2 separate regions of the Homo sapiens genome follow, and region 1 is linked to region 2. Evidence: fine-mapped expression QTL. A gene starts in region 2. The other region holds a variant in brackets. All regions are shown on one strand. Distances are from middle to middle.

Region 1 (16,286 bases), 53 kb after region 2:
ATTTTATTCTTTGTTCACTTAGAAGATGTGAGTGTCCATGCAGTAAAAGACAAAATGAAAGGAGAGAAGAGAGAGACCTGAAGCAGAACATGTGCAGAACAGTGGTCACTGTCATTACCCATTGACGTCATGTACTCAGGAACAACCAAATGAGAACACGCAGAATGGTTCCTTACACATACAGGGAAGAAAGAAAATTGTTTATCAGCATGGAGGACAATTATCTTTCGGCTTCTGCCCAGCATACAGTAGCCTCCATTTGAGCTGTAGTGAATTTCTCAGTTTTTCAACTGCTGTCTTCATTTTTGTTCCTAGTATGGGGAGGTGGGTATTACTATCTTCATTGCTCTTGATTGTTTCTTTTTTTCCCTTATGGACATGTTTCCTGCATAAAGGAACTCTCTAAAAGTTCATTTTCAGGGGATTGTTTTTCTTTAAAAAAAAAAGAAAAAAGAAAAAACTCTGCAGATTTTTCTCTGCAGACTTAACGTCTGAAACACACCCAGTTCCCGCTCCCAAATAGTTTCCTCTGTACGTTTCTCTGTGTGGGTTTTCTTCCAAAGTGCCACAGGCCAGACAGGGCTCTCTTTGAGCCCATCCAAGAGGCCCTGGTGTTTCTACAGGTTACAAACACAGAAAGAAAAAGCACATTCCCCACCCCAACCCTTGCCAGAGCTTGCTCTCTCTCTTTTTAGGCAAATGATGTTTTTACAGATTCCCCTTCATACTAACAACAGTGATGGATTTTCTGTTGCAACCCTTGAAATGTCTGCACACACCATGCATTATAATCAGATAAACCCTCAACCAAGCGAAGCATGGCCGTCTCATACCAGCCACTGTCTGCAGCCTTCTCTTACCTTCAGTTCTTGCCTGGCAGCAAAACTGGGCACACTCATGTCAGCGAGAAAATAAACCGGGAATATGGAATATATTAAGCTTAAGAGGAGGGTCTGGAAGGAATGAGCACTTTATTTGCTGAAGGCAGCTTAGTTGCACCTGACATTAATAAATGAAATGAAGTCTGATCAGTATTTAAAACAACCATACAAACTGGAACATGCTCATCCTAGTGAACAGAATGTGAAGAAAATCCAGAAGTTGGCAATAAATAAACTGCCTCAACTCGGTCAGCCATTTCTATTTTCTTTCTGTAAGATATTCACGGGAATCGGAATTTTGGAGGATCTCCATGAGGTTTTACTTCTTGCAAGGAACTTGTATTCCCTTTCCATTGTAACAGAAAGTTCCAGGGGAGCATCAATGAGAAGAAGGGGATGGGCATCTGCAAATACAATATGACCTAATGCAAATTTTGCTTCCTGCTAAAACTTTTTGAGACTCACAAAGATGTATGCAAAGGTAACATTCATTAAGGTAACAATAACTAACTTTTTTTTTTTAGTATGTGCTGGATATGGACTAAGTGCTTTACATGAATCATTTCATTTAACCCTCAGTAAACTTCAACATACGTTATGCTTCCCATTTTACAGATGTAAAACTGAGACTTGGAGAGGCTTAGGGACTGCCCAAGGTTACACACCTAGCTGGTGATCCACCAATTCCTAATATCATTAACTAAAATTTAGTGATCCAGGTGCTAATCATCTGGTATTATCATTTTTTATGTGAGTAGCACACACCAGTAGTTTGCATAAAACAGAGACAGTAAAATAGGCCAATGTTACAATTTTCTATGAAAGGCACAAAGGTAATATAGCATGAGGCTTCTATCTACCAAAAATTCATAAACCATTTGTTTATGAACAAGACTCACAATTGCAGTAGACCCTTGAACGACACAGAGCTTACAGGCATGCAGTCAAAAATCCATGTACAACTTCTGACTCTGCAAAAACTTTACTAATAGTCTATTGTTGACTGGAAGCCTTACTGATGACAAAAACAGTCAATTCACATGTATTTTGTATGTTATATGTATTACATTCTTTATTCTTACCATAAAGTAAGCCAGAGAAAAGAAAATATTATTAAGAAAATCATAAGGAAGAGAAACTTTATTTACTATTCATTAAGTGGAAAAAAGTGGATCATCATCAAGGACTTCATCTTAGTCTTCTTCATGTTGAGTAGGCTGAGGAAGAGGAGGGGTTGGTCTTGCTGTCTCAAGAGTGGCAGGAAAGATGGAAAAAAATCTGCATATAAGTGGACCCGTGTAGTTCAAACCCATGTTGTTCAAGGGTCAACTGTGATTAAACTGAGTTACAATTCAAGTTAATGTATAATCTTCACTGAACTCATAGCCTATTTTATCAAAGCTAAGAATCTTGTCATAAAAAGACCAACACAAGAAAACACCACCTCTCAATACTCAAATGTTCCTCTTGATGAAGTCACTGTGGCTATTGCACTGAAGTTTCTATCTGAACGTATCAATCTGCAGAATTCTTGGGGGTGGGTGTGGTATGCAGAGAAGAAGCAAGGGCCAGAAGTCAGGGAAGAAACATGAAGAGCGCCTGGCTGGTCCCAACTTCCCTCTGGTCACACTCCCTCACCCTTTGCCGCCTCATCCCTGCTACCTATCCTTGTTGAGGAAGAAGAGATGGGAGAGAAGAGAGTAGAAAGAGAGAAGGAAGTGAAAAGAGTGTTAAAGAAAGACATAAAGAAAATGGAAAGGAACTTCAAAGGGTCTTTGCATTGTTCTGAAGGTGAGAAGGTAAAATTAAACCTCCAAAAGAAAACTTTGCACTGTTAACAACAACAAGTTTTATAATACTTGCTTTCCTTGAAGAAAAGAAAATAGGCAGAGGGAAATGAGTGGATATTTCAAGGAATGTTATATAATGTCATAATGTAATGAGGGTTTGTGTGCTCTATGATGCTATGACAATTTGCAAGATTAATCCATTCAGTCTCCCATTTTTCCAGGCAGGGATTCTCATCAGGAATTCTCATCAGGGATCTGTTGAACTTAGAGGAATCTAGAAACCTGAAAGTTTTGCAAATTATTAGTTTCCGTAATTTTTCTGGGGAATGGTTCTGAAGCTTCCAGCAGCATCTCAATGGCATTTCCCAATTCTGCAAAGATTAAGAACTGCAGATTAAGGCAGATAGATTCCAGAAACTTTCGCTTTAAAGTTCTGACTTGGCAGGCAATTGGGAATCTTTCCACAGAGTGCTTTCCTCAAAAGGATAAAATAGTGACTTTATCAGACTTTCCAGTAGCCCCAATATTGCATCAAGCCCTTTCCAGGCAAGAATCCATATCCTCTTATCATTTCTCTTATGATCGGGTTTAAAGTTTTCTCACCCTCCACCAGTTGCTTCTAAGTATGCCCTGACCTGTCAATTTCTCCTTAATGCATGGCACCATAAAGTGAGCACTGCAATCCAGGATGAGTCGACCCATGAGGAAGCAGGCACTGCCCACCTTATTTTGAACACTTTGTTTCTGTTATAAAACCAAAGATCCCAAGAAGTTTTTTGAAAGATGCGTAATCCTTTTGTCTGGCAGGGATTTTTGACAAGTAAATTTCCTAAATCTTTCCTCATGTGTTACCTCTGAACTCAGTCACTTTCGACTTATCTCATATGTATACACTTGAGTGTTAGAAGACTAAAGAGCAGGATTTTATATTTATCTCTTTTAAATTTTATCTTGTCTAATTCAGTAAATGTTTAGCAAAGTGCATCAAAGTATTCTGGAAGCTCAATTTCTCATCCAACGTTAATAGTTGTCCCTCCCAGCCTCGTGCCACTCATGGGTTTATTTATCATGATCTCAAAGGCCTATCCAAGTCTCTGGTTTCCATATGGACAGGAGCAGGAGACCAAAGACTAGCAGCTCCTCCTATCTGATGCTGATTTAGGTTGATCAATGAATCAATGCTCTTTAGCTTTAAAGCATTCAACCAATTGTCAATTCAGCAGATTAAAATGAAATTCAGCCCATATTTCTCCATCTTGGCAATTTGAATATCAGGCAATTTTTTAAGAAACTTGCTGAAACCTAGATACTCTTCTTATGCATAGCATTCTTAGATATTTTCCACTCTACCTCATGACAACTATTGCAGAGAGACAGATTTTGGCTTAACAAAGCTGCTTGGGGCTGGAATACACCTGCTTCAGGTGGTGAGGTCTGTCATTGAAGGTTGAAAACATCTGGCTGGAATAAAATAGGAAATAAATAGGAATAAAATAGGAAAGATTTGGGTATCAAACAAGAGATTGAATTCTGTATCTGTATAGTGACTTGAGACTCTGAACATTTTTGACTATAAATGATGCTTCATGGGTGTTGAGTAAGTCAAATGGTAGCTTCGGGTAAGATTTGATTCAAGGATCAATGATGTCATCATGATCCCTTTCTGTTCTTCTTTTGTGTGCCAGAGTGGTTCTCAGGCTGTCTCCCCTTACTGTAGTCAGTTGGCTACAGCACCTTACTGAGCCCAGAGGAGAGGAGAATGTCTATAGTCTAGCATGCCTTGCAAACATATTAAGACTTGCACTGATTTAGACTGGATTAGGTCATGTGTCTATCCTGCAACAATCACTGTGGCCACAGAGATGAGACATGCTGTTCTGGTTATCTATTGCAACATAACAAATCACTTATCTCCCATGGTTTCTGTGGGTTAGGAATTTGAGTAAGCTCAGCTAGGTGACTTTTCCTGGGGCCCCTCATGGATTTGCAGTCAGATGGTGGTTGGGGCTAGAACAGTGGTGGGGAAGAGGAGTCGATGGTGCTAGGAGCTACCTGGCCATCTTTTTTTCCTTAAGGCAGTCTTGAGGCCTCTCTATGTGGTCTCTCCAATTGTGCCAGTTTGGGCTTCCCCACAATATGGAGGCCTCCGGGCCATGAGACTGCTTGCATACAGTGTCCCAGGAGAATAAGGTGTAAGTTTTTGGCATTTCTGTGGTCTAAACTCAGAAATCACATAATGTCTCTTCTGCCCTACTCTATTGGTTGAAACAGTCACAAAAACCCACCCATATTCAAAGGTAGGGTACATAGACTCTATCTCTTGATGGAAGAGGGGCAAGATTCTAGAAGAAACTTCTAGAAGAACAGTCATCCTTGGAAAATATAATCTTTCACATATGCTAATGGGCTTAATCCAATCAAAACGTGGCCCTAAGCTAAAAGCCCAAAAACAATATCCCAAAGTAAGCCTGGTTGATTGGGCATGGTGGCTCACACCTGTAATCCCAGCATTTTGGGAGGCTGAGGCAGGAGGATCGCTTGAGCCCAGGAGTTCAGGACTAGCCTGGGCAATATACTGAGACCCCATCTTTTTAAAAATTTTTAAAAAATATATCAAAGTAATCCAGGCTGTTATAGATGGGAGAAGAGGGGTGTAGATGGCAGAGAACAATCCCTCCTTCTATGTGAATGGGGACCAAAGCACAGGTGCAGAGGGATGAGGTCACTGTATTCTACCTACTTTAATTTTTTAATACAGATTTCTAAAACTACTTTATCATATGACAGATTTTGCCAAGAACTTATATTTACAACCAAAACTAAACACAACAGTGTTTGATTTTTTAAAAAGAAAACATTAAGTTACACATCATTAACTTAGATCTGCCAATGGAGAATCCATCTTGATGCATTAGGCTGAGTTTTCTTTGTGCTGGTTATAAACCGATTAATGGTATTAACAAAGGTGGGGGATCAAGGAACTATTTTAAGGGGATGAACAACTAGCTTTAATGTTGCTGAAGAGAAAAGGTGCTAATTATAAATATTTCTGAGAATCTGTTCATTAAACACTTTTGAGATTACAAAAGTTATTTCTTGTCTGCATTCTGTTATAAAAGTTTTAAATTCAAGTAAGAATTCAGTAAATACAGATAAAATGTGTACAGAATAAGGCTTATTTCTTTAAAAATAGTCAATAAATCAATATTTTTGTGGTTTTGTCAAAGTGACATTGACTTACTCCTAATTAGGATCAGGCTTTATATATTGTTTTTAATTGGGAGAAATATGTACCAAAATAAATATGAGATTTATTATTATAAATTCATATTTAAAAGGTAAAAAACTGCTGTGTGTCTGTGGCATTGCTGTTTTAAAGATTTCCTTGCATCCCCCCAAGAATGGCAGATAGTGTAATTACAGTATTCCTGCTGTGAACTTTTCTTTGTTTTCTAAATACAGTAAGTGTATCCGAAAACTTATTAAAATGAAATCCCCCTACCCTCTCACTCTTCGTGACTGTCAGCTTCCGATAAGCCCATACTGATGGTACTGATGGCGGCCAATTGCCCCTTGGCATTTGCTTTATTATAATTGCCCAATGGGTTCATCCTGCCTGCTGCACAGATAAAACCAATCTTCTGAGACAGCAGTATTACAGTAGAGAAAGAGTTTAATTATCACAGGACTAGCCAAGTGGCAAATGGGAGTTTATGACTCAAATCAGTCTCCCTGAGAATTCAGAGGCTAGGGTTTCTCAAGGCAGGGGACTAGGGAATGGGGAATGCTGATTGGTTGGGTTAGGGATAAAATCATAGCTGTCTTCTTACACTCTGTCAGTTCCTGGGTGGGATTGCAAGGTCAGATGAGCCAGTTTCATGGTATGGGGTACCAGTCCAGGTGGCACCAGCTTGTTCATTGGAATGCAGTCTGAAAAATACCTCAAGTACCAATCTTAGATTTTGCAATGGTGATGTCACCTATAGGAGCAAATGGGGAAGTTACAAAGCTTGTGACCTCTGGCTACAAGGCTCCTGAACCATAATTCTAATCTTGTGGCTAATTTGTTAGTCTTGCAAAGACATATTTGGTCCCTGAGCCAGGACGTAGTTAGTTTCAAGAAGAGACTGTTATCATCTTTGCTTTAAAGTTAAACTAAATTCCTCCCACAGTTGGCTTGGCCTATGCCCAGAAACAAACAAGGACAGCTTGGAGGTTAGAAGCAAGGTGGAGTCAGGTCGGATTTCTTTCATTGTCATAATTTTTCTATGTCAGATTTTTCTCACTGTCATAGTCTTTGCAAAAGCAGTTTCATTGAACTCCATTCTGCTCATGGAACAGTAGCTGCCAAGACTGGAGCTGGGGTGTTAAATGCGTGGAAAGACACTCAGCCTATGCCTCCCTCTACCCGCCAACACCCACAGCCTGCCTGTCAACAGCCCCATGCTCAATCATCCTAGGAATCTGCTCTACTGCTCTACTGTTTGGCGGTGGCTCTAGATTACTGAAGCTTTCTTCTCTCAAATGCTTGCTGTGCCAACAGTGTGTTTAACAAGGAACAGCTAAGACATTGAGTGTTCAAACAATGGTCAATTGTTGGGTCTGTATGAATTCAAGCAGCAGACTTGCCTGATTGCTTCATTTTTCTTTTTACCAGTTTGACTAACACCGCCTATTATTTTAACATTAGGTAGACTTTTTTAGTCACAAAAACCTACTCTCCATTTTTTAATGCCTTGCTAGATATACTTATTGTTGAATGTATGGTTTCTCTGCCTGTTAGCAGTGTTTTACCAGCTTTTGCCAACACAGCTTGTGCCCTATCTGCAGAGGACAAAGAAATGCAGAGGCCTAGAGAACAAGTCCATGCTCTCCCGTTCCCTGTTCAATGTCACAAGAGAGGCGCTCCCACACACCCTGTTGCACTGGAATGGACACAGAACCCTCAAGCTGTCAACAGTGACTTCCCACCCTGGGACCCCCTTCCCTCTCCCCTCTTCTGGCCTCCCCAGTCACTTCCAAGTTCCCATTTCTTCCACTTCTTCCAAATAATGCCTGCCCATCTTCACAGTGAGCACCTGGACACCACACTCACCTTCTCACCAGAAGTGCGAGTATCTCAGAGAGCGTTTCAAGGCAAGCCAAGGGGCAGAGCAACAGTGACTCTGGTGGCTAGTCCAAAGGCAGTGGAAAGTGGCCACTTCCCTGGGAGCCATAAGAAGGACCTTACAGTCTCACTTGGGCCCCATGAAGCTCTGGAGTATCATTCAAGGACTCCACATTTAGATTCTCCAAATGGCCAGAAATGTGCTGATTAACAGTTCACGAGGAACCACGTGGGTGCCGTAGGGTGCTGAAGGTTGCATGGCTGCGAGAAGATGTTCAAATATACCTGATAGGTGCTTCCTGCCCCATCCCACAGTATTAACCACGTGTTTCTGAAATTTTGACACCTAGATCCTCACTGACACTGGAGGGACTGCTCCCCCCAGGGCTAGTCAAGTCCTAGAGACAGCAAATGACTCCCCCATGAGTGTGCCCTTCATGTGCAAACCACACAGTCCAGAGCCCACATGCAGACCCTGTCTCCTCTAGCAGGCTCTGCCATGCTGGGCCTCTATTCCCCTGCCGTAATCACCCCAGGGCCAGGTGCCAGACAACTGGAAACAGCCCCTATGCCCCAGACCCAACAGAAATTATTCACACTAGCCGGTCCTAAGCCTGCTCATCCTATCTCCCCAGTTTCTTCCCTCGGAAACCTCGGCCGAGGCTCTTGCCTGTGTTTCCTCTAGCTTCTCTGCCACCTGCCCAACCCTGGTGCTTCCGCATGGGGCCCTGAGCATCATAGTGTGACCCTCCTCTCGGGAACTGAGTGACAATGGCAATCGTCTCATCTGTTGGCTTCACCGCACCTGAAAACCTACAATTTACACCACCAACCCCACTTTCTGCCAGAAAAATCTGTCCTAACCAGCTCCTCTGGCTGGGTTTATACATATTCTTATCACAGCTGCCAAGATCATGGTCACCAACAGGTCTTATCTGTGCAAAGGGGATAATGATAGAGCGAGGATGGTATGAAGAGCACGCTAGGCACACGCAGTGAGCTCTCAGCCCGGGTCTGGCGCTGGGAGGTGCTTGGTGCATCTCAGCTCTGATTACGATGATGACAAACTGTGCACCTCAAGGCCTCCAGGTCACCTCTGAGTGCCAGACACTTCCCATTCCAGCCCCTGTGCATTATCCTGAGCAATGCTTGTCTGCCTGTTAACACCAGCTCTGCAGATGAGAAGCCTCTCAAAACCCTTCCCCTGCACACCTCAGCAGGAGCAGCTGCTGCAGCGACACTGGGAACCCTCGAGTCTGAAGCCGGTGGGGAAGGGGCTCAGAATCTGCTTACCTGAGAGCTCAGGGAGCCTCCAGAGAGATGATTCACCTCACCTGGAGAGAGACAGCCAGAAAGGGCTGCTTACCCAGCAGCCGCTCCTCTGCCGTGCAGGAGAAACAGCAATTCTTTCCCTTAGATTTGTCTCTGGCCCAGAACCACC[T/C]CCATCTGATTCCTGAGGAGAGACGGAGGTGGGAACGGGGGTTTAGGGGTTATGGTTGAAGCTGAATGAGCTTCTTTCTCTTAAAACTCCAAACATCAACATTCAAGGCAGTACAGCTGACGGAACACAAAAGAACATCAACAAATATTGGACTCCAGTTAATGACATGTGTGGGAACAAAGGCACTGATGTTTGCAGCTGACTTTGAAAAGTCTAAAAACAATAAGCTGGATGGATGGGTAGCTGCACAGATATGTGGAAAGGAAAGAGAGCTGACGGCCAACAGCTGCGATGTATCTAGATGTGGCTATGTGAACCACCGTATAATTCTTTACATTCTTCTGTATGTGTAAAATATTGGGGACAAAAGGGACCAGAGACATCTTCCTTCTTCAGCATGGAAGGCAGAGTGGCCCTAGTATCCCGGGCATTCCAGGCCTCCGCAGCAGGAATGGAGGCAGATGGCAGCCAAGCAGCTGGGGAGCCGGGCAGTGGCAGGGGCACCTGGCAAAAGGGGCTTCGCTGCGGAGCACCCGAATCAGTGCAGGGCATCTTGGAGAGCTTCACAGGAGGGGAGCCCCCACTGCCGAGCAAAAGAGGGAGAAAATGTTGGGGCCACACAGTGCAGGGTGGACTTGCTCAAGAGCCCCCTGGAGACCCATCCCAGGACTTATCTGAAGACACTTTGCAGATGTCTTGACCCCTGCATTAAGAGACCCAGTGGAACACTGGTTATAGCTAGAAATGCACATATTTCCCAAAATTACTCTACAGATTTGTTTCCATCAGGAAATTTCAAATCCTCAAGTATAATTATATTTGACTTTTTTGAGATGAATCTTCTTTTTGTAAAGTATCACTTCCTCTGGAACAGCAGGGTTATTATTTAACAAGTTTAGCAAAAAACAAACAAAAAAAAACATTTCAAATAGAACGTAATCAAAGTTCTCTCCCTGATCCATCCCAATTGTATACTTCATCTTTTCAATGATGAATTGGATTCCTGTCTATGAAGCCCAGAATCCATTAAACTCCCCAAACTGGGTCTTAGTCACAGCACAACTGAGAAGCCATGTTTCAAACATGGAAGTGAGAATGAAGGACTTGACTTGCCAAATTACTGCCACACAAGCCCGATTTTCTCTACTAGCGGAGGCAGACCAATGGGAAGTGAACACCGAGGTCCATTTGTGAGTGAGCTCCCAATCCATGAGCAAAATAGTTTTGAAAACTTTAGGGAAACATTTGAATATTTTCCAGATATTAAGGACTCTTCCAACTTCTTTATTCAAATCCAAGTATGAATGACTCAAAAACATTAATTGAATCTTCCCACATGGACCAAGTTTTTTAATGAACATAAAAAAGTATGACTGATTGACATGCAAAAACTAGATGCAAAGATACAGAAGACTAATTTCTTACATCTCTCATGGACAAGATACTTATATCTTAATTACTTTGATTCTGTTCATTTGTAATAGGTCTCCTAAACTATTCACCAGCCAGCAATTTCTTATTTTGCAAATGCTGTCAGCCATCACTGGGGCTGGGTGGTATCAATAGGACAGAATGGTGGAGGGAACTCAACCGACACACAGGTTCTTTCCAGCTGGGTGTGCAGGATCAGGCTGATGCAGGTTGTGCTCTCAACTTTCACATAAATCACTGCAGAGGTGGCTGGGGCTCAGAGACCAGACAGACACATGGTGAGAGGAAATGCAAAGGAGATGTCGGCAAACAGGACAGCATCCTGAGCACCTGGCAATAGAAAGTGCCAGCTGGTAGGGACAGGGGCTCCCAGAGGCCAGGCAGGAACATGCTCAAGGGAACATGACAAGGATTCCTGCAGAGATTGAGTCACAAAGACCCAGCAGAGCACAGTCGCTCTGTGCTCAGAGTAGGAAGCTGAAAGCGGTCCTGAGTTAACATCATGAAATCCCCCCTTGGGAGACAGAACCAGCCTCAGAGGCTGGGGGCAAGGCTGACCCTAGTGGTAACCCATGGTGGGGTCACAAAGGCTATGACAGGAGCCTGTGCATCAGATATTGTATTAGTCTGTTCTCATACTACTGTAAAGAAATACCTGAAACTGGGTAATTTATAAAGAAAAGAGGTCAAATTGGCTCACGATTCTGCAGGCTGTACAGGAAGCATGACTGGGGAGGCCTTGGGAAACTTTCAGTAATGGCAGAAGGGAAGCAGCACATCTTACATGGCTGGAGCAGAAGAAAGAGAGCTAAGGGGGAAGTGCTACACACATTTAAACAACTAGATCTCTTGAGAACTCACTCACTATCATGAGAACAGCAAGAAGGAACTCTGCCTCCATGATCCAATCACCTCCCATCAGGCCCCTCCTCCAACACTGGGGATTACACTTTAACATGAGACTTGGGCAGGGACACAAATCCAAACCATATCAGATACCAAGTCAAAGCTTTGGGGAAACAGGGGATCAAGTATGACCCTATCCGAACAGGAGTGTCCTGAAAACAGTATGTGTAGTTGTTTAAAATTAATTCTCTTAAAATTCAGCATGAAATGAGGTTAAATGAATAACTGTGGCTTACCGTAAAGAAGAAATGCTAGCAGGTTGGAGCTCACAAACTTCACCCCATGCCACATTTCAGTGGGCTGAGCACAGTGTAGGCCCTTGGTGTTTGCTGGTTAGTTCTGAAGCAGGCTTCTCCAGGAGCAGAGTCAGTGGTCAACATCCATGATGAGAAATGAGGCACTAATTATCTCACTAATGGTGAGACTCTGTCACCCTCACCCCACCCTCCCCTCAATCCAACATCAGTTTGGCATCGATGTTCAAACTCTCACAATTAAAGATTAATTCCTTTGACTTTAAGCTTTATCCGCTATTGCAATACTAACTACTGTAACGTTAGTAATGGTCCTTTACCACTGAGTAGACATGAATCCCTAAAAGCCTTCCTTGAGAACATTTTGATCGAGGAAAAGAAGCAGAGAGTGTAAAAATATTAGGAAACTGGTATGGCACCAAGAGGCATGTGTGCTACAGAGAAAGTCCCAGGGAGGGGGCCCAGGAGGCAGGATTCACCACCTCATGTTTTATCTAAGACCTTCTTTACTGGATATCTCACTTGATTTAAGAACAGAGCTAATGAACTCATACAGAGCATGAAAAAAGGTTCTTTTCCAGCACATTCACTTCTTTTTCCCCTTAACCCAGGCCAGAAACAATTTAAAAGATTTTGGCAAGAAATGAATGACTGTGCATAGCCAACCATCTCCCCTGGAAGGATAACTCAAAGGACAGTGCCTGCTGAGGGGTGTCAGGGTCTCAACTTCAAAGCCGAGTTGAGCCAGATGGGAGGGGCTGCCTCAGTATCCCTGAGGGGTCAATAGGGGAGCTGACCCTGCAGGGTACTGCCTGGGGTCACAGAACCCAGGATCTATGGCTGGACTTGAAAGCAGAATTGACTTTTGAGGCTAGGTAAAACTGAACTTTAGTCCAAGAAAGAGATGAATGTTGGGTCTGGGGAATGGAGCAAACGTCAAGAAGAGAGGCAGATAAATCGCACTGGTGCAGAAATAATGAAAGCAGGCATTCATCAAACACCCACTGAGGCCTGGGCTCAGCGAGCTACCCACCAGGCAGTCTTCAAAGTGCCTTAGGTATATCATTTATTTGAAGTCTCAAACAACTCCAGGAGGTGTTAACTACTGCTATCTTGATTTTATGGATAAGAAAGCTGAGGCTGAGAAGCTAAATGATTTAGTCAATTTGTTAGTAAAATTGCTAGTTAGTAAAAAGTTGAGATAGTGTTCCAAGCTAGGAGTAAAAGGTTTTATATAAATGAGAACGCACGATTTATTACTCTCTGAAAACTTCCTCTAGTGGCTGTTAGGAAAATATTATCAAAGGATTATGATTCCTTCTTTTCCAGAGAACTCTTGCTCTGAAGCCAACCTGTAAGGCGTCTCATTTGAGCCTGCAAATCTGGAAAAATCCTATTCTGGGTAATCCATTCACAGAAAACATCAAGGAACCAAAGCTTCTTATGTATGGACCTTAGATTTCCCCAACACCAGTGGGCAGTGCAGGGGTACATTCATGGCAGAGGCGGCCACAACTCCCATCCCCACTCCTCGGAGCTCTGGCCTCCAAGGGAAAAACACCTTTTGCTTGTGTGTGAAGTTTAGAAAGAGGTTAGTTTCTGAGTCCCACTGACCCCCAAAACTGGTTTCTTCTGAGACCCTAGGCATCAGGTTAATGTTATCAAACCTATGGAGAAAAAAGAATATAGATTTTGAGAGAAAAGTAGATAAATGTTCCGTTCATCCATTACTTAAAAAACAAAACAAAACACTACTGTACCTTGAAGAACTGCACATCCACTTTGTGTCTGGCATTTGCATTTTCACATTTCATTAGGGATGACTTGGCAGGAAGCAACCCACTCCTACGCACACAGGCTTGAGCAAATGGGGCACAAGGGAATCTCTCAGAACCAAAGGCAGGAAATTGAGTTGGGACACTCTCTCCATTCCCAGTCTCTGGCTGCAGTCAGGCAGCCTCTCTAGGCTTCTCTCTGCACACCTGCTCTATGGACCCCCTTGATGTCCACTCAGAGTTCCAACTCCCTCTTAGCTTCCGTTCCCGTGTGACTTTGGCTCATTGGGGTTCTGACACTGGCCTCGGCTCTACATGATCTGAAAAATCCAAGGCTCAACTACCTGACTTCAATTTCTGGGCTTCTTCATTTATAATCTCAAGAGTGAGTTAAACACGCTCACATGAGCCATTGGGGTCAGGCAGCTACTTCTGGTCCCCTCAGCTAAGGAAGAGTAGGGAGATAAAACTACTTAATATATTCTCCACCACCTAAGACCAGCCCTGCAACTGGGCTATGGGCAATTCCAAGTGGGAGGTGTGGCTGGCAAGTTTCTACAAGTGGGAGCTGTGGCTGGCAAGGTTCTAATTCTATTAGGTGGGCATTATTATTCTCATTTTGCATATGAGGCGAGAGGCTAAAAAAAATGTATTCACCATCACAGTATTAGTAGGTGTAGAAATGGAGTTTGAATTTAGGTTGGTTTGTATCTGTGACCTATTGCAGTGTAATAAACTCGCCCAATACTTGGTGGCTTAAAGTGAAACCCGCCCCATTTACTTGCAGTTCTGTGGGTTGGCTGGGCAGGGCTCGGCGAGGATGCTCAGCCCAGTTTCATGCATGTTGCACGTGTTCTCTCCTCTGGAAGACCCCAGATGGCCTCTCTCAGATGTCTGCCCTCCGCAGAGCCTCTCTCTACTCATGGTCTTTCATCTTCCAAGGCTTCTCTTTGCTTGTGGAGGCTCATTCTTAGGGTCCCTCTTTCTTGACATGGTTTCTCCAGCCAGCCCAGTCTGGAGGGGAAGGGCAATGAACTCTACCTGTGGATAGGAGTAGAGACAAAGTCACATGTCAAAAGGGCATCGGGACTGGCCAGGATTGTAGCAGCCATCTTGGGAAACAACCTCCACAGAATCCAAACCCATGCCTGTTATGCAATGCCAACACCCCCAAGGGCCTTCTGAGATCTTTGGAACGTCTTCCAAAGGCGGCCTGAATCCCAGACTACAACTCAGGGCTGAACATGACCTCTTTGACCAGCTTGGTGTCCTCTTTGAGCCGGCACTAAGTTAAACCAGGGGAATACACAAGTGAGTCAGGCACGGCCCCTGCCTTCCCAGAGATGTAGTCTCCTGAGAGAAGGACTCGATGCAGACAAGTTAGATCAGGCTCAATCCCCTCTGGAGGACAAGAACTTTCAATGCAGGAAGCATAAAGATTGCCAATTAGTCTGAGTCTATGAAGTACCTTCTTTTTCTTGGCAATGTGTTAGACTGCGCTACTCAAAGACCTTAGAAATAAACCTTTAAACTAGGTAGTTGCTAAATTCATAAGTTTTTAAAATGTAACATGATGTTTTTTAAGAAAAAAACATACCATCTCTACCTCATAAGCTGGAAACTCAGCCAGAAACAGAGGAGAGGGGTAGACAGCAGGCACAGACAGATGGGGATGCGTGCTCCTTCTATCAATGGCAGATGCCAAAAAGCCAAACACAAGGAAACCCAGGAGGAACCCACTGTGCTTTGACAGTGTCAGGTGGTAGGAGCCAGTCCCAGGGAGGGCAAAGTTCCCAGGGTGCTCACCCTGCTGAGCCTAGATCCTGTCATTGACGACAGCAAAGAGACGTTGACACTCATGCATCTCAGCAAGGCCATGGCTCGGTGCCTCCTCCATCCTTCTCAGACCTGATCTGAGATGGGTCTATCATTTATTTTAATTCTCAAACAACTCCAGGAGGTGTTAACTCCCTGCAGTCCACCATGGGGCCCCAGCATGTGACATTTTTCTGCCCTTGGATAAGCCTGCTTGTCCTTGAAAGCCTGGCTGCTTTCCTCAACCTGCCCGCTACTTTGCCAAGGTGAACCCAAGACTCACCTCCAGCTTGCTATTTATCCCCCATCCATTACTGAGGGCCTCCCATGAGCCATGCATAGAGCTACTCCAGAGGCACTAAAATACCAAGGTATTTCACTCCGGAAGCCCACAGCCTAGCAGCAAGGACAGAAATATACATTTTTATGTGGAAACCAAAGAATATCTAAAAGCTTGCCATTTAGCAACCAGTCATTTCTTGTTTCATTTACAATTTTTGGACTTGATTTTTTTTTTCTGTTTATGTGTGTGCACACACTGTGTTTTCAGAGGTTTTTGTAGGTGGTAAATCATACTGGGAGGTTCAGGAGCCGTGTCACTTGCAGAGGTGTCACTTGCAGAGGTGTCTGAGGGGCTGATCTTCGTGCTGCAGCCAAAAATACCGTAAATAAATAATAAGCCCCACCAGATGTTAGAAACCAGGCTGGGAGGTGTGACGAGACTTCATAGCCACTGGGGTTTGAAGATCTTATCTGATGCTGATGGCTTTTGCCAAAGGGCTCCATCATTTGCAAGGAGGGGTGGGGATACTTTATATGAGGAATCTGGCTTTGCCGAAGCTTTCCAGGTCTAATTACACAGCTCCGGCTGTGTTTAAGGGAGGGG
Region 2 (16,286 bases):
TTATCAGCCAGGGCCAAGGTGTCTGGGAAAGGCTCGACTGAGTGAGGGTCCACACAGCTCAAGTGGCTGTGGGCAGGATTCAGGTCCTTGCCACATGGGACTCTCCACCATGGCTTCTTGAGACCAAGTGGAGAAGGCAGGAGAGATTGCTGGCAAGACAGCAGTCACAGTCTTGTATATCCTCATCATGGAAGTGACATGCCACCACCTTTGCCACATCCTGTTGGTTAGGAGCAAGTCACAGGTTCACACTCAAGGGGAGGGCATAGCACAGCCGTGAATGCCAAGGTGGGTTCATCCAAGCCATTTCACAAGCTGCCTACTGTGCTGGGCTGCCAGGATAAACCCCTACATCTCCTGCTTCCCTGCCTTACCCTCATTGCTGCCTTGATGCCACCTTGGCTGCAGTGACCCTAGGGACGTCCCCACACTTGTGCCTGGAGCTCCCAGAGCCCGTGACAGATTGGGCTCTGCCCGAAACACACTTCACCAAGAGCCTCTGAGTTTAGGAAAGCACACCTCGCAGCATAGCTGCGGCTGCTCCCGAAGGGCCTTCTCCTGGGGTCCACACGCAGCCCCAGCCTGGCCCCAGGGTTGCTCTCCCAGGAGCTCCTACCTGCATCCTAGCCCACACCCTCGTGGAGCTGCTCACAGTCCAGCCGCTCTCCCTGCCCCTTCCCCTCCCGCTCAGGTCTTCCCTTCCTGACCTCCCTGCCCTGCCCCGGGGCTGAGCTTTTCCTCAATGGCTAAGGCTGGGAACATCCCTCCCACGCCCACCCGGCGTGCGTGATTGGTGGTCACTGAGGATCACCGTCCTCCAAACGCGACGATGCAAGACGCTCTGGAATCACCCGTCCTCAGTCCCCCAGTCCTACGGTTCACCGAGGATGTCATGGCCCCAGGGGGTGTGGTGATGTTCAGCGCCTTTTGGTATTCTATTCTTTCCTCCAGAGTCGTGGGGAGGACACCAGCCAGATGTCCCTGCGGGTCTCCTCAGCTCCTGAGCTCCTGGGAGTGAGAAGAAGTTTCCTGGCATGGGCAGCCTAATTCCAGGAGGGAACGGTCCTGGGAAATGCCCAGTCCACACCATGGGACACGGCGCCTCGGCCCGAAGCTTCATTATTTGGGTGATTTCGCTGCATGCAAGGTTTGGCCATCCCCCCGGGACCAAAGGGAGATTGGAAGATATCCTCATACCTACCTCAGAAGGCAAAACCTCTTTAGGGCTTAAAATGTCTGCCTTTCCAGCTTCAAAATAATGCGAAGTCACATCAGGCGCCTTCTGCAGGCCCGGAGCGCAGGGAGGGGCAGTCAGGAGGCCTGGTTCTGTTGTCCTGTTGAAGAGCAGATGCTGTTGATGTGCTTTTTGTGAGATAAAGCAGCCCTGCAACATGCTTAGGTTCCCTTTATTTCTTCCGAACTTCATGAGGCACTTTCTCCTGCTGTTCCAGGATGGAGTGAAGGCGCCTAGCAGCCACCGTGCACCTGGCTCCAAGCTCAGTCAACACTTCAACCGGCCATCACCATCCCTGCTGGGGAGGAGGGCAGAAGCCACGGTGGGGGCAGGTGCATGTGTCTCCCTGTGGGTCACAGCAGTCCTCCTCCCCGAGATGCTGACATCTCCCACCCATGCTGAGACCCCGGCATTAGGGAGGAAGATGTGTGTGATGGGTGCAGAGGTGACAGCACCTGACCCAAGCCTGCCCCCACTTCCCATCGCCCCACAGTGCACAAGGCAATTTCCAGGTTGCCTTCTGTGGCGTGTGTCACTTGGGTGGGGGCAGGACGGGTAGAAAGATGAAGAGGAGGCAGGGATTCTGGTCTGAGGTCTGCCTGATGGAAGGGCCAACACCACTTTTCAGGAGGTCCCCAGCCCTGGCTGTGTGAAAGGCTGAGAAGGCAGAGAATCTTGCTGGTGAAGGGTGGGAGAATAATTTTTCTTGCTTTAGCTTGGTCTGTGAAAAATTAAACAATGTCAGATGAAAACACTGCCAAGCACAAGTTTATGCACTTCAAAGAATTTTTATTTTTTCAATCAGAGGAGACATGAAATCCCAGACTCTAGACTCTCTATTTCAGTTCCAAATTGTCAAAGTGCTGATGTTGCAGTCTTTCCTCGAGTTTGTTTGGAGAAAGCAGCAAACGTATGAAAAGGAAAAACTGTATTTTACCCAAATGAGCTCCCTGAATTTGTAGAGTGTATGATTAAGTGGAGCCTTGTTGGAACAAGAATCATTTTACATTCCTAAAGGGTGATTCTTTGCAACTCTTTGGTCTCAGAACTGGCAAGACCCTGGACGAATGATGGGAAGAAGAATTCAAAAATAATAGAGAATCTGGGGCTTACTGTGGGAAGGATGGCCGGCGGGCACTGCATGGATGCTGGCTGACTCTGTTAGCCCCCATGACACCGGCGTGGATCAGGGTCATGCCTTAGGCAGGCAGCCCTGCCCTGGGGGATCCTAGAGGACAGACCCGGGGTGGTAGATCCCACTCATCCCCAGCCGGGTGCCCTGTGCAGAGAACAAATGCAAAGCTCTCCTGAGGTCCCTGCATCTCCCTGTTATTAAACTTCCTGTCTGCATATCCACCAAGCACTCCCTGGCATGTGGACTGCTAACATGAAATTCCTTCCTTCCACAAGCACTAAACTAGAACCTCTAGGGGCTGGTCAGCGTCTCTAGGGAATTATGGGGGAAATAGATATGCAAACGACGGCACCTGGAGAGGAAAGGGTACCCTGAGGCACCTTCCAGAGGGACGTCTCTAGATCCTAGCTCAAGGAGCTGCAGGGGAGGGCAGCATGGGTGTCAAAACCGAGTTTGGAAGGGTGACCAGGAGTTTGCCAGTAGACAAGGAAAGGAAGGCATTCCAGGCAGAGCAGGAGCCTAGCACAGGCAAAGCAGGAGCAACACGCTTTAGGCAACACCATTAGAAAGTCTGTGTGTTTTGGAAAGTCCTCGGCATGTAACACTCTTCATACTTTTATTTCTAAGTGGCTTTTCTTGGGAAATAAAAAAGACTCTAGTGATGTGTAATTGCTGTGTAGGCCTCTTAAAACTCAAGGAAACATTCAATGAATAATTTTGCTGGGGTCAAAGAGAAAAAACCAGAACCAAAAAAAAAAAAAAAGAAAAAAGAAAATTAACGGAAGTAATGGCACTGAGCCTGTCCTCAGGGCACTTCCGGTCTAATGAAGAACAGCTGTGAGAACACACCACATGCTGCTGTTTGTGGCCTGTTCTAGGAGTATGGTCAGGGAGGCGAGGTGCCCCAGAACCCTGGAGAAGCAGGGGAGGCTCCCTGGGGACCAGCAGAGGCCAGGCTTGAAATGGCTCCTAAAGAAAGTGTGGGAGTGGTCAGGGAAACCTCTGTGGGTGGGGTAGATTCAGACGGAGGGCTCCTTGGTGTCTGAGGTATGGCAGGTGTGGGTGAGCACAGGTGGGAAGGAGGATGGGAAGGGGAAGGGACAGAGGTCAGGGAAGAGGTGACGAAGGTGAGATTAGGAGGGTAGCCAGCCAGGCATTGAGGGTGGAGGAGCCAAACCAATGCGTTGGATTTTATGCTATGTCAGTGGAGGGCCAATGAAGGATTTAGTCTGAGGAGTAGCAATAGCGGCTTTAAAAAACAGTGTGCATTGCTCTTTTCTTGAGTATAAAGTAATGCATGCTCATTGAAGAAAACATGGAGCATGTAGAAAGCACTAAGAAGAAAGTTAAAATGCAGAAAATTTAAGATAAATAAGAACTCACAATCCCATTATCTGAAAGAATGATAAGCACATCAAACTGTGAGCATTTGGTCTTTTTCCTCCTGTCTTCCAGAGATACCATAGTTGACATTGTTGGCAGAGGATGAGAAGAGAGACCACTGAGAGACCGCCCTACCAGTCAAGGTGAAAGGTGGAGCTGGGGCAGGAGTTCAAACATAGAATTTTCAGCAGGTTACCAAGTAGTCATGGTTTGGCTGAAGGTCTGCTGACTTTCTTCCCAGTGAAGAAAATGACATTAATATGCAGTGTTATCTGAGAAATTCAAAAATATTGTGAAACTGTGCTCAACAGCCAGAAGCTATTACTCATCTTTTCATTGGTTTCCTTTTCATAATGTTTAAAATATTAGCCTAAAGAAGGGAGAGCACAGAATTAAGTGGTAAGAAATCTACGGATCATGAAAATCGTTAATGGCCTTGAGGGACTGTATTGCTTTCTTATTCCTGGAGACGGGGAGTTTTAATCTCTCATCCCTGTCCTCGTCTCACGCGACCCTGGTGATTTCAGAATTACAACATGTTTTGACCCCCAGAACTCTCTACAGTGCTGGAAGGAAAGGATTCTTGAAATGAGCCAGAGCTGGTTTAGGAGAAAACCGAGACCCTGAGAGGTAATGAGATGTGACCAGGGGTCCCAGACCAGCTGGAAGAGAGAAGGGGGCGAACCTCAGCCTCACAACCTCCAGGTTCATCCCTTGTCTCTCTCATCATGACATCAATCCCACATCTCCTATTGATGCCCCACAAATTTATTTGCAGTAGGTAGAAACATGCCTACTCATGATTACTTAACTATCACAGGAATTAAAGGCGAGGCTAATACTGCAAATCACTTCAGTATGCTGTGCTTGGCTTCAGAAAAACCCAATGTACAGAAACAACTATAAGTCATTTTTTGCAAGACTTAGTTTTACAAAAACTATTTGTTGGAAGTAATCATTCTCATTTTAAGAGAGAAAGAGAGGGAAAGAGGGACAAATGTACTGCCAGAGGAAAGCTATTTTATCTACCTCTTTACTTACTTTTTATTTGAGAAAATTTCAAGCACACACCAAGCAAAAGAGAATAGTCTAATGAGCCCTCACGCACCCTTTGTCCAATGGCTATCAACATTGTGCCAATCCTGACTTTAGAGAGCTTTTAAAATACAGTTTAATCCACAAAGATTGTATTTACAATCAGCTTTTCATGTTCAAATCTACTATGTAAAGAAAGATGTTTTAATTTATTTCCTGATCTGAATGGACAGGAAGATTATATTTCTCAGTTGGTTCTTCACGGGTTTGTCTGTTCTCAGGGGACTCTGAGCACACATTCCAAGCCACAGATGGAGAGAGCACCTGGTCCTCCCTAGATGCCACTCCTGACAGCCCTGAGATGCTGAATAGGCTGCCACTGTCTGGAGTCATGTGCAGGATGGGGAGAGCAATGGGCTGCAGCCAGGAATGCCAAGATGTAGCCTTGGCTTTGCTGCTGAGGTGACCTGTGCAATCTGCTGGTCATTGGTGCTCCTGATGGGTCTCTCCAGGGACTTTAATTCTTTCACTCACAGACCATGAGTAACTGAGTCTGATGAGTGCCGCTGGTTTCCTGGAGAGGCGATTACTGATGACAGTGTACCCTGCTGTGCTGGGTGTGGGCACTGTGTGTCACCACCATCACCTGTTCTGGGATTGCCACAATGCGCATCACTACCTAGCGTGTTTGTTTGTCACTTTGTTTATTCTGTTTCGTTTATTGTCCAACTCTTCCAACCAAACACATATTCCTTGGATGTGGGAGATGCATCTTTCTTGTTTACCATTGAATCTCTATGAAAATCCACACCTCAGTTAGCTCACTGTCTGGTGGACCAGGTGGGATGCCGCTTACAAAAACACCCAGTGCACTCAGCTGCAGGGTGTTTTTATGGTGTTGCTGTAGCTGGCTCTTGACTTGCTAAGCCTTGTGCTTTCCAGATGTTTACCCAAAAGCATAACTGGGAGAGGAGTCCAGCCATCAGCTTCCCTCTCTTCCAGTTGGCAAGCTCTTCTAGGGCTTTCACTGAATCCTTGGACTTCCTGAGCTGTCCCACCCCACAGGAGACCTGGAGTCACTGCATGTCTCACAGACAGCCAATTAGTATTTATTCAGGAAGTGCCTTTGCTATTTAGAGTTTATAATATATCCCCCAGTTCCACAAGGAAGCCTGTGTATTTGGGGAAGGTACCGATGGCGGATTCTATCTTCCAAAGGTGGCTGAACCAATGCATTTTCCATCCCACATACTCTTAATATTATTGGACTCATCTCCAAAGAAAGGTGGTATCTACATTCCCTCCCCTTGAGCCAGAGAAGTCCTTTATAACTGACTTAGCCAGTGGAGCTCAGTGGACTCAATGCTGCAAGCCTACCAAAGCTGGGCAGGGAAAGGCACACAGCTCTTCCAGGCTCTCTCTCTTTCTCTGGAGGGTCACCATGTTGTGAGGAAGCCCAGGCCACATCAAGAACTCACATGTCAGTGTTCTGACTCAAGGCCTCAGGCCCAACCAGCAGCCAGCATCAACTAGCAGATATGAGAGTGATGACCCCCCCCAAGGATTTCAACACGCTGCCTTTGAGTCTTCCCTCGAAGACCCCAGAAGTCATGGGGCAGAGACATGCCACTCCTGCTGTTCCCTACCTGGATTCCTGACTCTCAGACACCGTGAGAAATAATAAAAGATGACTGTTGTTTAAGCTTCTGCATTTTGGGTCATTCGCTATGCAGTAACAATTAATACACAGACTTCTTGAGACTCTCTTTTCACTCACCGTAAGAAACACTGGCGATGAGTGGCTGGCCATCTAGTTAGAAGAGGGGTCTAGGGAATTTGCATTGCAGCTATGCTTGTGTACCAAGCATTACTGGAGAGAGGTCACCATGGAGATGCTACTACTTGGCATCTTGATGCCTGTGCAAACATTTCTGCAATTTACTAATCCCATACATGTTATTTAGTAGCCCTTCCATAACTTTGTAAAGGTGCAATACAAAGCTCTTTGAGTTATCCCTAACAATAGTTAAATAAGCTACCACCTGGAAAAATTGGCATATTCTTGAATCCACAATATTACTGGAGTTCCCTAATGGATAGAAGTGGACCCACCCCATCCCCATTCCTATCCTCACACACTGAACCTCAGATTGTGTAAATGATAGAAAGGATGCCAGCTTCTTCTTTAGAAGTTCAAGTCATTTTGGGGACTGGCTTCAAAACAACAAACAATCCTGTTTTTGGAGCCCAACGCTGTCATGATCTCCAACATTTTGTGTTAACGTTGTGCCTCTGGAATAAAACAGGAGGGGCAAGCAGGACGTCACAATAGCAGTGAAGACTCTTCTGAGAAGAAAGGGCTTCACAGAATGAGTTCTGTGGGTGCCTGCAAGTCTCCTTGCTTGTTGAGCAGCTGCAGGGCACAGGGAAGCGCCATCTGGGTATTCACCAAGTTTTGTAAACAAACGGCCTTCCACGCACTGGCAGGACACACTCCGCAGCAGATCTTGAAAGCTCGCTCCCCTGGAGACTTTCCCTAGGAAAGTGACGAGACTTTTCCAAAGGAGTTAAACTTAATGAAAAATGGGTTAGGAACGAAACAGCTTTGAAGAGGGATAGAAAGAATGGAGCAGTGTGTTATTTAGAAAGCTTTCTTCCTCAAGGACCGCCTTGCTTGCCCTATGATTCTCGTAGCTTCTCCTGCCACATTTTCCCCCACCACCCCCACCACCCCTCAAGCCCAGGAGCTGTGTTATTTCTGGTCCACCTTTGAATGAACTGGGATAAAAATACCTGGCTTTGCAAGTGTCACACTGATCTGCCGATGTAAGTACAGTAGATCAAAGAGAAAGATAGGGTTACGCACTTTCTAGGAAACGTTTGAAAACTTGCCATTGTTCCTGAAAATTTCGGGACTGCTTTCAATGTGTGAAAATGAAGAGGGAAAGTTTAGAGCTTCAGAAAAAATAAAAGGTAAATTTAGGGCTGGAGGGTGAAGTATTTGCCTTTGTAGTATTTTTATATTTAAATGATTATAGTGATCTTGCTCAGTAGGCTTGTTTCTCTATGATAAAGTTGTGGATTTTGTTATTTTAAAAAAGGAAGATAACTCCATTTTATTTGGGGGAGAACATAGGTGTTATTATAAGAATCCTTGTGATTTACCTAACTGGATATTAGGGACTGCAAAGCAGAAAATAAGATAATTATGATATGCTGGTGTTGCATCTCACCTGCGTTTAATCTGATCACTAACTTTAGAACCGAAGCCCTTCCCCTACCAGAAACTATAACTCTACAAAACCATTGCCAAGGGATGAGAATGATACCATTCAGCGGAACTACAAACAAGAAAGTCAAACTGGAAAACCAGAAAACAGATGGCTAAACTCTTTTCTAAACTTTTCCAAGAGCAGTGTTTATGCAGGTATGTATTTCTGATTAATCAAAATATAGATTTGAATCCAGTTAACATGTTTTGAGCACGGCATCTGTGCCAAGACCTTTAAACACACACACACACACACACACACACACACGCACACACACACACAACAACAACAACACCACAAACAGACAAGAAGGCATTATAAAGTTTTAGATATTAAGATAGGATGGATTAAACACCACAGGTAAGGGGACCCCTCACTCTAAATTCACCTTTAAAGATTTGGAAATTATCTTACCAGTAGAAGATCATCATTCCTTGTAGCACATCAGCTCCTGCTGAGCAGCGACCCTAACCTTGGAAGAGGACAGCTGTGGCTTGGTTTACCCCGCAGTGGTAGCTCTGTATTCAGAGCACAGTCATGTATTCAGAAGCACTCAAAAGAAAAAGAAGCAGAGGCCACCAGCTAAACCACTCATGGCCTCCTCAAACAATGACACTGAAAAGCCATGTGCCCCTTGGACTTGCCACATCATTGGCCTGGCTTGTGTAGCAGCAGGAGGCCAGAGTTAGGAAGACTTCATTTCTCCTGCCACTTCATCCCTTCATGCAAATAACCTGTGCAGCCTGTTTTCTTCCTGTGTTCTATTAACTAGGATATGAGGTAGAAATATGTCACAATCATGGGAAACATACAAAACTTGATGACTGAAATGTGCTTGTCTGTGAAGTGCCACCTATGCCTTCAAAGTGATAAAGATCCAGACTGAGTTGAAAAGAATGATAAAGACAGAGCTGAGAGGGCCACAGTTTTAGTGACAGCCTCAGCTGTGACAAAGGAGAGAAAACAGAAAGACCTGGGAAAGTGCAAGGATGAAGCAATTAAGTTTGAGAAATGTGATGTGAGGTTTAGGAAAGGTGGATTTTAGCCCCAGCAGACTTTTAGCTGGACACGGACCTAATACCTTGAGACTTCATTGTTCCCATTAAAGAAAAAATTATCTTCTGACTTTCTAGGGGTTTGGGGGTCCCAGATATCAAAAGATTTAAACCACTTAGGAGGTAAGTTCTAAGTTCTCTATGGAACTGCAATTATTATTTTTGATATTTTTGTTATATTATAATGCATAAACCTGGGACTGGCTACATACTTTGCAGAGTTCAGGAGAAAATGAAAAGGAGGGATTGCATGTACAAAATTATTAAGACTCACAGGCTGGTAACAGCAAGACCCTTCTGATCAGGAGGTTCTGCATGAATGCACTGGTCACCAGGCCATGAAGCGAGCTCTGCATAAACCAGCATCAGAAAAAAAAAAAAAAGAATTTTTTTCTGATGCTTGGTAGTCAAATACAGCTGATTGTATCAGAATGCGAGCAACACAGGGAAGATTGAGGATAAGCCCAACAAGGGCAGGTATTTTTGTTGTTTGGGTCACTATTTTACAGGAGTACAGGCTGCCCAGTTAAACATGAATTTCAGATAAACAGCAAAGAGGATGGCGAGGAGTAAGAAAAAACAAAACAAAAAAATTCTTGCTTCAGGATGGATCATTGTTTCCATAATCATTTTCAAGGATGCATACATAAATATATAATATTCTTAAACACTTTTGGAGACAAAATCTAATTAATTTATAGATAAATGTATCAACCATAGAGAGAGAATTGCTATATCACACTCTGGGACGGCTGTTTGCATTCAATTGTGCTTTTAATTTCTTATTTATTTATGCTCCCAAACAACTGATTATTTGATTAAATTGATTTTATTTCTTCAAAGATTTTTGAACCTTCAGTCTAAAAAGACTAAAAGCTTAATGGTTAAAGGAAAATGTATCTAACCTGGTGAGAAATTAGACACTGGGCATACTCTTCTCTATTTTACTTTTTCTCTTTCCGCTTCTGTATATTTTTCCTTGCTTTTTCTTCTTTCCTCTTTCCTATCTTCCTTCCACCCTGCACAAAGCCACCTGTCTTTTACCATGTGTATAGTACAGGTAAACTTTGAGTACTAACTGCAGCCAGCATTAGGCATCTAAACATCACATATCATGTGATCAAACTCAATTATTCAGAATGCTGTCCTTATTTTAACAGAGATATTACAACAGCCTTAAATACTAGCCTACTATTAATATTACTGAGGTGTATTAGTCTGTTATCACACTGCTATAAAGACAAACCTGTGACTGGATAACTTATAAAGAAAAGAGGTTTAATTAGCTCACAGTTCTGCAGGACGCACAAGCTTCTGCTTCTGGGGAGGCCTCAGGAAACTTACAATCATTGCAGAAATCAAAGGGGAAGTAGTTACATTTTCACATGGCCAGCAAGAGAGAGAGAGCGAAGAGGGAAGTGTTACACACTTTCAAACAAGCAGATCTTGTGAAAACTCACTCACTGTCACAAGAACAATAAGGGGGAAGTCCACCACCATAATCCAATCACCTCCCACCAGGCCCCTCATCCAACATTGAGGATTATGATTCTACGTGAGATTTGGGTGAGGACCCAGAGCCAAACCATATCATGAGGAAACACTGGCCTTAGCCAGAGTGGGTATAAGAGAGAATATACAAAGGCGTATGCATGAATACATAAGCATGTTTTTGTGAATGTCACTTTATTTAAGCTCAATTCTTTGGAGTCAAAGAAAACTCCATACACTGAATTCCCTCCTGAAAGTGGCCATTGTGGAGGATTCATGATGAATTCAAGTACGTTTGAAATCCTAGAGTTCTTCAGGACAAGTAAATAAACAGAAGTAAAGATCACCTCCGTTATGTAGGTGAGATTTTGGTTCTGCCCCAGGATGGCACAGAGCAAAGCTGTCCATACAGAGGTTCTGCATGACCCTCTGCAGTTGCTTCTGGGCTGTCTCATTCACAATCCTACCATTGGCCTGCTGGTAAAAAATCATTTGTAGAGAGGGACATTCCCCCCCTACCCCACCACCAAATACTAACTAACCTTGTAAGGCTTCTCCAGCATGTGGGGTTGCCAGATAAAATACAAGCTGCCCAGTTAAATGTGAATTTCAGATAAACAGCAAAAAAAAAATTTAGTATGGATATCTCCCAAATACTGTATGGAACATATACTAAAAAGTTATTTGTGTTCATCCGAAGTTCAAATTTAACCTGGCATTCTTTTTTTTTTTTCTTGCTACATCTGGCACTCCTTGGAGCATGGAATTTAGCAGAGCATGCTTTGAGTATTATCTGGGCTTTACTGAGCTTCTGTTCACACCCTTACAGCAAATGTACCCCAGAGTATAAAGAATATCGAAGGTCAGTTGGATCCCACTGGAGGAACTAAAGCAGTCACATTGACCAGCAGAAACGAAAATGGCGTGCCACTGTGTTAGGAGGTTGTGGGTCAGGGGCGCCCTGGGCAGTGGTGTCTTGGGGCCTGTGGACACTGTAGGGAGTTCTATGAAAGCTGTGTGAAAGCTCAGACCCACATAGGTGGGTCTGAGAGAGACGCTGTGTGTGCTGTTTGTTGTCTTCTCCAGTTAGAGGAGGCAACGGAGTATGGCAGAACTGTCTTCGTCATTAGTTTTCACTGGGATGTTTCTGCTTTGGCAAAATACTCATCAAATATCTGAGTCCGCAAAACGCATGGCTTGCCGGGAGAAGGAAACTTTGGGGCTGCTCCCAAGCCAGTGCTTGGGAGAAAACATCCCAAATAGGGGTGAACACAGGCTCATGAGCAGAAGGCTTTGGCCTCCATGGGGATATCAGGAAATTCAAGGTCCATTATCCTTTTTCCCTCTGGTAGAAGCACATGCCCATTGGCAGAAAAGACTGTGAAGTTTGGAGCAAGCTCATCTTTTTTCACATAGTAAAAGGGAGATTTAACTCAATGACTAATTTTATTTATTTAAGAGACACATAGCGTTTCTTATCTGCCAGGCGTTGTTCTAAATGCTTGGCAAGCATCAACTCACTAAATCTTTTAATAAACTGGGAGATAGGTTTTATCATTGACCCCATTTTACAGAAAAAGAAACTGAGGCAGAGAGAGATTAAATAACTTGCCCAAGGTTACACAGGTAGGAATCATCCCGGGCTATCTTTTAACTACCTTGCTAGAGTTCAAGGAGGGCTTGTTCCCACAATCAAGCAAGCATTCAGGTTTTTGTGATGACGATAAGAGGATGAAGATGTATGATGAGGCACATAGCTCCGTGCTAGCTCTGGAAGGGTCAAAGATACATGACCGCTGGCTGGCACATCATAGGCACTCTAGAATTACAGTTATTGCTGTTAGGCCTGGAAACCCTTATTGTGGGTGCCAGACCAGTGCAAGCTGCTAGGGACACATAGAAGAAAAAGTCCTTATCTCTGTTGCAGAAGTTGACAGGTATGAATCATATTTTCCTCCCAAACAGGACAATCAAGTAAGAGTGATGCAGTTAGCTGTGGTGAAGCAACTGGCCAAATAGTCCCTGAAATGCTCAGAAAAGACCACTAGTGATCTTCTAACTTCTAGCCTTTCTCCAAGCTGATTATCTGTTATCTGTATTTCCTAAAGATGTGCCTGGTGGCCACATTGTATACCCAAATATTCACTTATGTGATAAATCCACCAACATTGGCCACGTTAAACAATACCCAGGGATTGGGTATCCCTGAGATTTAAAAACAAGTTTTATTATTATTTGTTGCTGTATTTCCTGACATCTTAATAAAACAGATTTATGAAACAAGAGACATTAAGATTTGGGGTAATTGAACCTTTTGCTGATATTTATAAAATCAGAGGATCTCAGGGATGGCAAATACCTCCAAGTTGTTCTGGCTCAGCAGTCCACTGGGTTCTGAATTGTCCTCTATCTCATTCTTGCTAACTTCCAAGAATCCCATTAAGAGCCCAGATGCATACGCAGTGATTGTTTAAACTAGTTATAATGCTACTATATCAGGCAGTTATGATTTATGTTATGAACTTCAGCTTCACAGTCTATACTATATCTTATCCAGAAAACTCTGAATGCATTAAAAAAACCCATAGATTGTACATTGAAAGTTGATTACATTTTCTTGAAATACATATACTTCCCTAGCTAGAGGTTTGTCATTTTAAAAAAATCTGTTCAAAGAACCAACTTTTGGTTTGACTGATTTTCTCCATTGTTTTTCTATTCTTTAGTTTACTAATTTTCACTCTAATCTTTATGATTCTTTGCTTCTGCTTGCTGTTTTAGTTTGGTGCTCTTTTTCCAGCATCTTAAGGTGGGAGGTTAGGTTTTTAGTTTGAGATATTTCTTCTTTATTATTATGGGAATGTACAGCTATATATTTTCCTCTAAGCACTGCTTTGATTTCATCCCACAAATTTTGGTGTGTTGTGTCTTCATTTTCATTCATTTTAAAGTACTTTCTAATTTCCCTTTGACTCATAGTTTTCTTCTTTGACTCATAGGTTATTTAAGATATGTTGTTTTATTGTTACACCTTTGTGAATCCCCCAAACATCTTTCTGTTGTTATTGATTCTTAATTTTTTTCATTATGGTCATAAAAAAGAATTTGCATTAATCATTTTTAATTTAATGAAGGCTGTTTATGGTATCTTATATGGTCAATCCTTAAGAAGGTTCCATGTGCACTTGAAAAAAAAAGCCTATTCTATTGTTACTGGGTGGAGTTTTCCATAGATGTCTGCTAGGTCTACCTGGAGTTGGTTTATATGTTGATCACGTCTATTTCCTTGTTTGTCTTCTGCCTACTTGTTTCATTCATTACAGAAAGTTAGTATGAAAGCTTCAAACTATTATTGTTGAATTTTCTATTTCTCCCTGATATGGTTTGGCTTTGTTCCCACCCAAATCTCATCTTGAATTGTAGCTCCCATAATTCCCATGTGTTTTGGGAGGGACCCAGTGGGAAATAATTGAATCATGGGGGTGGTTTCCCCCATACTCTTTGAGTGGTAGTAAATAAGTCTCATGAGATCTGATGGTTTTATAATGGATTTCCTCTTTCACTTGGCTCTCATTGCGACTCTTGCCTGCCCCGATGTAAGATGTGCCTTTGCTCCTCCCTTGCCTTCCATCATGATTTTGAAGCCTGCCCAGCAGCATAGAAACATGAGTCCATCAAATTTTTTTTCTTTATAAATTACCCTGTCTCAGGTATGTCTTTATCAGCAGTGTGAGAACAGACTAATATATCCCCTCAATTCTGTTTGTTTTCACTGCATGGGATTTTGGAGTTCCAATTGTTAAGTACATATATGTTTTAAATTGTTATTTTCTCTAGATGAATTGACCCTTTTATCATTATAAAAGATTCCTCTCTATTTCTAGTAACTTTTTGGTTTGTTTTGAAGTCTGTTTTGTTTGATATTATAAAGTCACTACAAGGTTGCTGTTTGCATGGTATATCTTTTTCCATTCGTTTACTTCCAACCTATTTATATCTTTTGATCTCAAATGTGTCTCTTGTTGACAGCATGTAGTTGGATTTTGTATCTTTATCCAGTCTGATGATTTCAGCCTCTTGATTTGATTGTTATCCAATCAAATCTAACATTTAGTGTTATATTGATAGAGTTGTGTTTACATCTGATAGTTTGCTTTTTGTTTTCTGTCTCATGTTCTTTTTGTTCCTCTGCTCCTCCATTATTGATTTCTTTTGTATACATAAATTTCTTTCACTATGCTTTTTACTTATTTTCTAGTAGTTACTCTAAGGGTTTACCATATATGTCTTAATTTATCAGAATTTACTTCAGACCTATACTAACTTAATTCCGGTGAGATATAGAAACATTACTCCTATATAGCTCTGTTAACCCCACATCTGGTCTCTTTCACAGGCACATTTGGTTACCTGCTTTTGATCCTGTGTAGATTATGCTTTTTCTGTTTCTTTGCCTCACAACTTTTTGTTGATAACCGAACATAAAATTTTATGGTAGCGCTGGATACCAATACCCTCTCTGAGCCTTGTTGTTTTTGTTTGCTTGTTTATTTATTTTGCTACTTGGCTAGACCATTCTAGGGATGTCTATTTCCCCAGTAGTGTGAGACCTCTGATGTTGCTTCTCAAAGAGTGCAAAATTAGAAACGTGTTCAGCCAGGTGGGATGAGATTTGTTTGAGCAGGGCTTTCTTTGACTATTTCTTTCCCTTGTCACAGCCAGCTGATAGGCTCCACTAACTGCTTGCTGATTGCTCAATTGTTTACAAGAATGCCCTGATAGAAACTGTTCCACAGTCTGATTCAATTAAATTTGAGCTCTTTTGCAGGGGTAGGTGTGAAGTCAGTGTTTGAAGTTTGTTCTGACCTCAGAAGGGCTCGTCATAGCTATGTCTTATAATTGGTTCTCTCTCATAAACGAACTGGTCTATTATTTAGCTTGGGTCTCTTGTGAAGTCTCCTCTTAATTGCTTAACCCTGAATCTTCCATTGCTTATGATAGTGTCTTTAGGCTCGAACTTCCCCACACTGTGTTTCAAAGGCAAACTTTAGAAGGCTTGCCTCTCCCCCTGGGATAAATCTTTGAGCCATGGCTCCGTAGCTGGGGATAGGAATAGTGGTGACTCCCTGCTTTTAGGAGCAGGGCACCAGGTGAGATGGCAGCCTCTGGTTTTCCCAGCTTATCTCTCCTAATATGGAGACTGCTGCATATTGGAGCAGAGTCTGCCCTATGAACAAGCTGAATGAGAGCAAATGGGACCCCAGTACTCTCAGTGTGCTATGGCTGATTGAAGGATGGATGGAAGAAGGGATTCCTTGACCCAGCTGCACTTGACTGGAATTTACACTTTGCAATTCTTAGCTGGGGAGAATGAGAAATGCTGGCAGCCTGCCCTTCCTGGGAAGATGCCGCAGCCCTCGATTGAGAACTGAGGGGAGCAGGATCTTGCGTTCTTGGCTGCACTCACTTGGGATGGAGTCTCTGTTATGCTGAGCTAGGAGAGAGAAAGGAGGAAGTGGGTTGAGGTTCAAATGCCAGACTCTTACTGTTCTGGCAGACTTTTAGTAGACAGTCTGGAGCAAATTTTCTGCATTTGCTGTGTGCCCTTAGAGCAATTTCCAGAAACTTCTGATGGTTGTTGTTGCCTTTTATATTTTCACCAGTTATGTGTGTTTAGTGGA

What was found. PIP is the estimated chance that this variant, and not a neighbour inherited with it, causes the effect.
Region 1: its variant is fine-mapped to the expression of LINC02529 in tibial nerve (GTEx, PIP above 0.99).

The regions. Positions count from the first base shown.
Region 1 is chr6:159,427,411-159,443,696 of GRCh38, forward strand. No RefSeq gene overlaps it. Among named protein-coding and RNA genes, the nearest start is that of LINC02529, 52 kb to the left of the region's middle. The variant T/C (reference allele first, on the strand shown) is at 9,220.
Region 2 is chr6:159,374,541-159,390,826 of GRCh38, forward strand. It overlaps LINC02529 (long intergenic non-protein coding RNA 2529), which reads left to right and starts at 8,991. Exons shown (of 3, transcript NR_125873.1): 1 at 8,991-9,237. LOC105378084 (a long non-coding RNA gene) reads right to left here and starts at 8,787. Exons shown (of 3, transcript XR_943176.1): 1 at 8,474-8,787; 2 at 1,202-1,334; 3 at 791-1,008.